Regions from separate parts of the Homo sapiens genome. Here region 2 is linked to region 1. Evidence: fine-mapped expression QTL. A gene starts in region 1. The other region holds a variant in brackets. All regions are shown on one strand. Distances are between the middles of the regions.

Region 1 (5,479 bases):
CTTATTAGCTGAGATCAATTGAGATCAGAAAATGAAAAATACACTAGATGCTAAGAACTCTTTGTGAAACCACATTTGTAGGATGAGAACTGAATGAAGATTAATGTGTTATTTTTGGCTTCTAAATCAGTGATTTAAAAACTTATTTTCTACATCCTGCTGCTGGATTAAACACTAATATATATTTGGTTGGTTTACTTGCTTGCAAGTATTATCTTTTCCTCTTTGAGCTTATGTATTAATGGAAGGAAATGATTTTTAATTTAAATGTATCTTGCTTTGCACACCACATGTGTTTCTGAAAGAGCTACACATTAAATTGGTTAAATTGATTATTTTTTCCTATGGAATTACAAATTAATGACTAGCTTCTTTGTTTTAATGTCTGATTGATTTTCATTTGCTTTTTCAATAAAATGCGGATCCTTAGCACATCATGTGGACCTTATGTAATCTGGACTCTGTCTACCTTTGTAGGGACCTCACCACACTCTCCTACTCTCCTCTTCTGTCTCCAAGCGCCAGCGACAGTGACCTTTTCTCAACCCCTAGTACTTCAAACTCAAGATTTTTGCACATATTGTTTAAAATTTTAATTCTCCAACATTCTTTGCCTTGTTTTTTAAAATATAGTACACATAGTACATTGCTATCTTAATTGTCCATCTTCCCTTAGCTAGAAAGTAGGCTCCAAAAATGAATGTATTTTTGTCTTTTTATTCACTGCTGAATCTCTACATCTAAAAGTGATGAATAAATGAATAAATAAATTGGTAAATGAATAAGGAATTCCTTATAATGGAATACAAATTTCCCTTCCCTAAAACCAGGTAGCTTCTATTCATCATTCAAATTCTAGCTTAAATATCACTTTTTCAGGCCACTCTGACCCCAAGACAAGGTCAAGTTCCTCTACTATTTATTCTTATAGATCCTGTACTTCTCTATATAATTTATTAGAACCCCAACTTATGAAGTTTATTGTTTGTGAGATAATTTGCTTAATTTCTGTGTTCTCCCCTAAGCTGTAAGCTCTGTTGGAACAGACAATGTTTCTTACTCTTACCTGTATCCCCAACACTAGCACAATGCCTGGATCATAGAGACACCTAATAAGCATCAGTTGAATGAAACCATGGATGTGTGGATTAGGCAATTCCTCAGTTATAACTTTGTCTCTCTGTTCTACTGTCCAATGTTCTCACAACAAAAAAAGTAACTAACGAACCCCAAAGAATGCCTTAGTATTCTGGATAAGTTCTTATTTAAATGCACTCCTCCATGAATTCAATAATGCTTGGAGGATCCCTTAAAGATAATGCCTAATAATTACCTCTTCACCCCATGCTATTTAATTAAACAAATACTTAATGAGTTTTTCCTCTAGTCCAAGTTGCACAGAGGGAAATACCATCATGTAAATAGTGAAAAGACCATGCGTTTTCAAACAGAAAGATCTCTTTCACTTTTGCTGCCTGTTAAATTTGGTTAAGTTATCAACTGAGCCTTGGGTTCTTCTTCTGTCTAACAGAAACAGCAATACCTATTTTGCAGGGTTTATGTAAGGATTAGTGATAAGCATATATTTATTGATAAGCCTGACACATAGTCAGTGCTCAAAAGATGGTAGCTGTTATTACTGTCACTGGAAGGTAAGCTCTTAGAGGGCAGACTATACTTGCATTCCCTGTACCTTACACTCAATAAAGGCTAGTTAAACTGAAAAGCAACGGGAACAATAGCAGAATATGTGCTACTTCTCAACTCTCAAGGGCCTTAAAAATCTAATCAAGAAAATACACTCCAAAACTTATTCATGAAATATTTAGATAATAAAGAAAAACAATACTTACGACAACTTATACATGAAATTAGAGCAAAATGTGTGTTATAGACCATACATGCTTTACATGGCCAGCCAGGAAATGATAGGAGGTGGCTGGCTGCAGTTACTGTGAAATGATAAGTTCACATATTTGTGTGTTAGAAGATGCTTACTGTAAGCCTCCTATGGAAGTGTTCAATTTCTTTGGCAAAATTTTATGCTATCTATGCCAATGTTGGATAAATAGATTAACTTGCTGCTTTGTGTTTGTATGCTTGCAGACAAAATTGTGTTATTGATCTTGGGTATCAAGGTGAATTTGTCAGAGTAATGGGTGTTTTTTTTTTTTTTTTTTCTCTTAAACAGTGGCTGGCTAACAATCAAAAATAGGTTTTGGTAATGTTGGGTAACGTTGCTCAAATACGGCTATATTATGCAGAGCACATGGCAATCGTTGAAGAGTAAAACACAGATAATTCCACTTCTTTGTAGTGTGCTTGACACAGGTTTGCAGCAGTATTGCATCATCTATAAGCATTACATATGGCTGTCCTTTCATCTTACTAAATTATTTGCCAGCAGATCTAATAGATGGGCTGAGATAGTGAGCATGAACAAAAGAATGTTTCTCTTCTCCAGGATATTCTCTACTTTTTGTTACTTAAGTATCTATGTAATAGCATTTGACATACAGCCAAACACCAGGGCAGCCCCATTTAAGGTTTTTGATACACTGAGGATCATTCAGAAAACTTCGGATTCCTAGTTATAGAGTTGAATCCAACCACCAACACACTCCAGAAGTCCTGACATTAGGAAAAGAGATGGCCACCATCTTTCACCCACTTCAAGTCCTGTAAGGATGATCTAGAATCTACACTGTGCCAACTAGCATCCAGGCACACATCAACCTGCCCGGACTACCAAATGCAGAAACAAGCCCAGTAGCAGCAGCTGCTCCGAGCTTGCCCACACACCTGCATCCTAGTGGCAGACAAATATCCTGGAAGCCTTTGTGTCCACACACTCATACCTACATGACATACACTTAGAGGAAAAGATCTGAATATTCTTATTCACAAGAACAGAGGCCTGAATACAGGAACACTATGCTCACGTACACACAAAAGACACGCATGGAATAAAGCATTTTGCATATCCAGTCTTGCGCACTTACACTTTCAGGTCCTGCACAAGACCCCTGGACATCGGTTTGCTTTTCTTTGAGCCATTCACAAACTAGTTCCTCGTTCCTGGGACCGTCCCTAGTGTGGATAAAAGCCAACTTCCCACAGTCTTTGTCGGTCTTTTCAACTTTTCTCTGCTCTCGCTCAACTCCCAGAGGGCCGGGTGGCGCCGGCCAGCCGACGTCCCAGCGGTGGCCTCCCCGCCCAGCCGCTGTGCAGCGGGGCGGGGCCGAACTGGCAGCCAGGAAATGCCCTGGAGTGTGTGTCACCTGTCCAGGACGACTTGTTGATTCCCAGGAGGGCCGCCTTTCCGGTCTGGGTCCCCGAGAGGACTGCCTTGCTCACCTGTCCCCTCGGCGCGGCCCCGGGGAGCTCCCGAGAGGCCCCCGGGATCGCTGGCCCTCCGAACTCCACAGCAATGAGCAAGTTGGGCAAGTTCTTTAAAGGGGGCGGCTCTTCTAAGAGCCGAGCCGCTCCCAGTCCCCAGGAGGCCCTGGTCCGACTTCGGGAGACTGAGGAGATGCTGGGCAAGAAACAAGAGTACCTGGAAAATCGAATCCAGAGAGAAATCGCCCTGGCCAAGAAGCACGGCACGCAGAATAAGCGAGGTAGGCTGGGGTCTGGCCCACAGGCGGGAGCCCATCTGCCTCTAGCCTTTCCCTTGGGGACAATCGGCCCACACCACTGAGGTCCCCAGGTGGCCAGGTTTGCTCCTGCAGTCTTTTCTAGGAACTGGTACTGACTCTTAGGGCACTGACTAGGGTGAGTTGAGCTAGACACTGGCACTGATGGCAAAATGTAAGGGGCCGCCAAAAATCTCAGTAATCAAGATGAACAATACTTTAATGCAATACCTAAAGGACTCAGAACCAATGCCAAAAAAGAAATGATGAAGAAAATATCAAAATTTTAAATAAAGACAAGATTGGTATTGATTTTTTTCATTTGCCTCTAGCTCTTATGTTGTTATGTGCAGCACATCTTTATTTAAAATTATTTTTTATAATGTGATGATTTGTTCATCGTGGATTTTTTAATATTAATTTTGAATTTTAAAAATATTGCATTAAAATATTATTTGTCTTGATTACTGAGTGTTTTCGCACCCCTGTAAATTTTGCTCCTGGTCCAGCTTTTTCTAGGCCAGCCTTGCTGACTCCAACACTAACCATGAAGTTTTCTGCTGTATGTTTGTATATTAAATTACACATTTTAACTTGCACGTAAATCTTCAGAAAAGGATATTCTAGTACGTTGTGGTCTACCTTGCTCCTCAGCTGTGGAAAGCTTTAGCTGGATGTTCGGCAGTTGAAGTCTTAAAAAAAAAAAAGGTAGAGGAATTAATTATTAAATTTCCTATCACTGACTTTTGGCACACACAAGAGACTTTGAGTCAGTAATGATTCTTGGTGTTCCTGTTGCACCTTGAACACCTGTTCTTTGCCAGAGTTAACTGATTTCTTCAGTATACTGCTCCTTCTATTGGAATACCTCTAAACAGCACCTGTGGCACAGATAAAAACTCAGTGAGAAGTTGAAGTGATTTGCTCTTGTAACACCGGGTTCATGGCAGACCCAGAAAAGGAAGTGGCAATATCGGACTCTGCTTACCACCAAACCCAAACATTTGCACCCTCAAGTTGGGCTTCTTTAGTCATAATGAAGCCTTGGGAAGATTTGGCTCACTCTACAGGATGCTGCCATTGTTTAATGCAGGAAAGGAATGAAGTCTCAAGGAGATGAACTTGAGAACTCTGCCTCTTTCTGTAAAAGTGTGCCAGCTACATTTATGCCCACTTACCACCAACAATAAGAAGGCTGTTTTATTGCATATAACTTTTGTGCATATTATAGCCTGTTTTAGAGGTAAGTACTGATTTCTACTTTTACTTTGTGTCTGAAAATATTCTGGGAAGTTATGCAATGGCAATTTCTAAAGAAAGACCATGTCATTATGGCTTGCTAAAAATGTTGTTGGTCATTTTGCTCCTTGGCCCTTCCTCTTCAGTTTGATACACACTCTGACGTTTGCTTAGTGTCTGTCAAGGGTTTTCTTCCCTTTGCCATCTATTTGGATCTGTGTACAGCTTTGTCTACCATGGTTGCTCAGCAAATATTGGTGGTGGTTGTTGTTGTTTTGAGACAGAGTTTCACTCTTGTTGCCCAGGCTGGAGTGCAATGGCGCGATCTTGGCTCACCGCAACCTCTGCCGCCCAGGTTCAAGCGATTCTCCTGCCTCAGCCTCCCGAGTCGCTGGGATTACAGGCATGTGCCACCACACCCAGCTAATTTTATATTTTTAATAGAGACAGGGTTTCTCCATGTTGGTAAGACTGGTCTCGAACTCCTGACCTCAGGTGATCCACCTGCCTTGGCCTCCCAAAGGGCTAGGATTACAAGTGTGAGCCACCGCACCTGGCTGATGTTGGTTTTAAAAATCTAAAAAATTGACCATTTCCTTCTAGGA
Region 2 (5,000 bases), 24 kb after region 1:
CAGAATCACCTGGAGAATAAATAAAGAGAACACAGATGCCCAGGCTACTTGAACTTGCAAAGTGTTTGGGTCCATGTGATTCCGATGCTAACCAATGTCTGAGAACCACTGACACAGAAGAATAGTCATGAGCATGGATTTGGGGGTCAAATTTTCTGGGCTATAATCCCAGGTCAACTGCTGACTATCCCTTGGGCAATTTATTATACTTTATTCAGTTTCCTTATATGTAAATTAGAGATTATAATAGTACTTACTTACCTCGTGGTTATTGTGAGATTCAATGAGATACTAGATATAATGCACTTAGTATAGTTCCTGGCACAAAGTGAGCACTCAATAATTAATATTCACAATTTGCTTTACATTCACACTGGGAAATATGTCTGGGACCGGATCCTTTCCTGATATTGGATGTGATAGTGGAACCTGGGGCAAGGATGCACAAGAGCAATGAGTGCCTAAGAGATGCAGACAAATTTCTGTAGAGTGGGAAAAGGTGAAAAAGGTGGTGGCTGGGGGCAGTGAAGACAACTTTGCTAACATTTTCTTTTCTGAATAATTCATTAACAATCAGCCTCCATTTTGACAGCTTCAGGTAGACATTAGATTCATTATCAGAGTCAAAATTCTCTATTGCTTTTGGATACAAAAATGTGTCACAAAATCAGCCTTTCCCTCCAGGCAGCTTGGCAGCATCATACCATTGTATTACATTTGAGAAAAATTTGTTCCCAGGCCCAAAGTTGAGCCATACATTTTTTCATATTCCTTTTAAAAATATATTTGTTTTATATTCAGTATAAATAGAATAATAAGGTTTAAAGATAAGGGATGGTCAGAGGGAGGTAAAAGTATTCTTTTTGATTATTGCATGAAAATATGTCAAAATAGCTCTTACAGAGTCAGGGAAACTCACAAAAAAATTACTTCCACTGGGAATCAAACTTTTGGTATTTAGGCTACTTAATAATGAGGGACATTGTCAGTTCTCTTATATCCAATCAGTTTGGCCTAGTTTCAGAGTTGGAGGAATTACTCAGAGATAAGCTACTATAGAAACATACCAGAACCTGGCATGTAGACACCGACATGCTTAGGCGGGTGTTTAGGAGCCAGTGAAGCTCAGGTGTTGGAAAATGTCTTCAAAGTGGCTGTCCATCCTGAGCAAGTAGCTACCTAGATTTATTTGCTGCAGTTGCTAATTCTTCTGAGGGCTGTATAGGTTTAATCCTGCTCTCTTTAGTAACCTCTCAGGGCATCACCGCTATGCAAAAACCCTTGGGGAGCCAGGATTTCAGAGCTGCTAAGTGTTACAAAAAATAGATCTCTAGACCCAGTGTTTAGCTTCAACAAAGGGCCGCTGTCAGATAGGGGCTCCTAAAAGCTGCCAAAGCTCATCTAGTTACAGTGGTCCTGGTGGTCTGTGGTAGTGTTTCCTGCAGAGTTGATACACAGCAGCATGTATTTAAATTTGTCATATGCCCTATCAGACAAAATTTCAAAATGGGTTTACAAATAGTGATAGTTATAAAATACTTTTATTTTTAGTGAGTTCCAAATGTAATAGGTATTTACTTAATGTTTATAATATATGGATTATTAAGTTTTTAAAATATAAGTTATCTTTAAAGTTTATAAATATCATCAGGAATATTTATCCTACTCAAATAACTAAGAATTTATATTAAATGAACTGACTTTTTATATAGGATTATATCTAAATTCATAATTATAAGTTAAAATTCTAAAATGTTCAACAAAATATGATTTCCCAGGGATCTGAACAAAATAGATGATTTGATGCAAGAGATCACAGAGCAACAGGATATCGCCCAAGAAATCTCAGAAGCATTTTCTCAACGGGTTGGCTTTGGTGATGACTTTGATGAGGTACGTAACCCAATATGAAGAATGCAGGATTGTGGCTGCTATAAAGAGTAGCTTCCTGTCATATATAGTAGGCATGTTCCCTTACTACTGAAAGAACAAGTGATATTTGTAAGAAAGGTACTTCTCTTAAGAGAAAAATAAAGTGTTAGTACCTCTGATTTAAAGGAAAGATGAATACAGTTTGGCAAACAGTGGCCTGATTAAGTTTTCAGCTATTAAGGAAAGAACAGCATGTGATTGTGTAAAGTTAGTGACTTTTAGTGGTTGAAGCCTAAACAGCCCCATTACGAGGAACTGAGTGCTTGCACATCTGGGCAAAACAAAGTAGACTTCGTCATTCTGCATGAAACAGACGTATCATGCTCTGTAGCTGTTAAATTAGAGGTTAGGCTGCCTCTGTTTATTACTCAGGCTATGAAACCAAATAAATGTGGAGTGGCATTATTAACACACACATTCCATTTAGATTAATCAGTCCAATAATACAGACAGACTATAATTATAATGGTGATGTCTGCACTGTGAATTTCAATTGTTCTGCTCAAAGCACACACAAGTAGGACTAGTACACATTTAGAAACATTTCCAAAGCTTGGATTAGCATGGCAAAGAATCCAACTTCCTGCATCTATGTGATATTAAAAATAACACATTTAGCAAGTAAGACCTGGTTCCATGGAATCCCCAAAAATGAGAATGGGGTATCAATACCTTTTAAAAATGGTGTAGACAAGGGGTCAGCAAAAATATGGCTTGCAGGCCAAATTCTTCCCGTGACCTGTTTGTATATCCCAAAAGCTCAGGATGGGTTTCACAATTTTAATGTTGTAGAAAACAATAACAACAAAGGAGACTATGGGGCAGAAGAAAACATGCAGCCTGCAAATCCTGCAATATTACTATTTGGGCCTTTACAGAGAAAGTTTTTCAACTCCTGATGTAGACTAGTAAGCATCTAGTGAGTACATTATGATATGGTGGAAAGGAATCTGGGCTTATGTGGACATCTGGGCTCTATCATTTGTTAAAAACTTTGTGTAA[G/A]TCTCTTTTACTTTTCTGACTGTTAGTTTTCTTATCTGTGATAATGAAGATTTTTGGATCCCTGGATTATCTCCAAAACATCTTAAGTTCCAAAATTCTATTCTCAATGGTCAAATTAGTGTTTGGTACCTAAAGGATGAAAATGATGGAGGAGATGATTACTCTGTTGTTACCATATTGCTAAAGAAAACATTAATATGTTTCTGCTGCTGTTGATAACGATGATGCACTATTGGCAATTGTGGGCATACATTCGGCATAGGATAGCTTGTTCTGCCATTACTATATTTATGGTATTTGTCCCTGATTGTTTTGTGAGCAGAAATAGGACGCCAGGGTATTCATTCTGTTCCATTTTAGTCATATAGCCTGTGGAGATCCATCAAGTACACAACTATATTGACTGTGCTATTTCATACGGCCCAATGCTATACACCTTCATATTTTCTTCCCTTTTTATGAGGCGAATTTAATAGAGGTCAGACAATCTTTAGCTTGCTGCAATTCTGATACCCACTGACTTAATCAAATGTTGTGGTTGGCTTAAATATCTTCTCTCTTTCCCCACAGTGTTATTACTCTCACTTTAATATTGGATAATTATTTGTTTATGTGCCTTCCCCCCACATTTGAGTGTAAGCTCCTTGAATATAGGGAGTGTTGATTCAACTTTGCATCCCAGCACTGAGTTCAAAATCTGCCCAGGAGTGAGTGCTCAATGAATTTGTTGAATAATGAATGAATGAATTCTCTCATTCGTTATTCATCCATGAAAGAAAAATCTACTTGGTTGAATATAAGGTGTCCCAAGTCATTTCTAATAGTGACAACCTCATAATTCCATCAATGACAAGTTCAGTTGTGACTCCCAAATTCTCTCTGAGAGGGGTTGGACTCTACTTCAGGACTTATGGAGCCAGTGAGATCTGAACTATCTGAGTCATCTCAGAATTGGCATAAGGTGACTTACATTTTTAAGGTCTCAAACTAGCCTTGTCTCTCAAAAGTTTTTGGGACAGAGAGTAGTTTAAGATTAAACCAGGCTCTCTCGGACTATTGCTAAAAGAAGGAAATACAGTATACCTATCTTGAATTGAACTTTTCTTAACCCAAATGCACAGCATAATTTATATTGGCTTTGGTGATTTGATAAAAGAACCATAGTATCTTTAATTCCTTTTACTTTCTGTACGTTATGGTTTTGCTATACCTGTTGTTTTATTTTCAATCGCATTAGCCCAAAGAAAAACATTTATTTCCACCAGTTAACATTTTGTGGATTCTAAACAGTAGAAAAGAACACATTGGAAAGATGACAGACAAGGTGTAAGTTTCCCAGAAACTGTGGGGAGGTTATATATTCAGCTAGCACAAATTACTTGAATGGCTGTTTACTGAAGTATTAGAAGATTAACTACAACAAATTTGCACAACCCAGAATATTCATTTTTTAATCATTGCTCAGTGTTGCAAAAAAGACTTAGTTTTAAAATAAATATTCCATTTCACTGGGTTCTCACATATCAATTGGGTAGCAGATGTTCTTGTTATTGTGTTTGAGGAAACCCATGTCTTGAAACGTTAACTCCATAATTCTTCCTTTCTCCTGTGTTCAGGATGAGTTGATGGCAGAACTTGAAGAATTGGAACAGGAGGAATTAAATAAGAAGATGACAAATATCCGCCTTCCAAATGTGCCTTCCTCTTCTCTCCCAGCACAGCCAAATAGAAAACCAGGCATGTCGTCCACTGCACGTCGATCCCGAGCAGGTCTGTTACCCAGCTCAACTACATGTGGTCAGATAGTTGCCTAAAATGATAGCCAGGCCCATTCTTTTTAGCACATGTTTTTGATTTCAAACTGAACACATTTTTATATGTAATTCATACCTGTTTTCTATGCTGAAAGTGTGAATGTCACCAATTACTAATTTTTATCTATTTTATGTTCCAGCATCTTCCCAGAGGGCAGAAGAAGAGGATGATGATATCAAACAATTGGCAGCTTGGGCTACCTAAACTAAAACACATTTTTGATACCTAAATTAATGAGCTATAGATAAAAT

What was found. PIP is the estimated chance that this variant, and not a neighbour inherited with it, causes the effect. A credible set is the group of variants that fine-mapping cannot tell apart.
Region 2: its variant is the best candidate, but not a certain one, in a credible set for the expression of CHMP4C in sun-exposed skin (GTEx, PIP 0.53).

The regions. Positions count from the first base shown.
Region 1 is chr8:81,729,197-81,734,675 of GRCh38, forward strand. It overlaps CHMP4C (charged multivesicular body protein 4C), which reads left to right and starts at 3,252. Exons shown (of 5, transcript NM_152284.4): 1 at 3,252-3,620. The coding sequence starts at 3,431.
Region 2 is chr8:81,753,592-81,758,591 of GRCh38, forward strand. It overlaps CHMP4C (charged multivesicular body protein 4C), which reads left to right. Exons shown (of 5, transcript NM_152284.4): 3 at 1,779-1,893; 4 at 4,551-4,704; 5 at 4,889-5,000. The coding sequence ends at 4,953. Among named protein-coding and RNA genes, the nearest start is that of CHMP4C, 24 kb to the left of the region's middle. The variant G/A (reference allele first, on the strand shown) is at 2,935.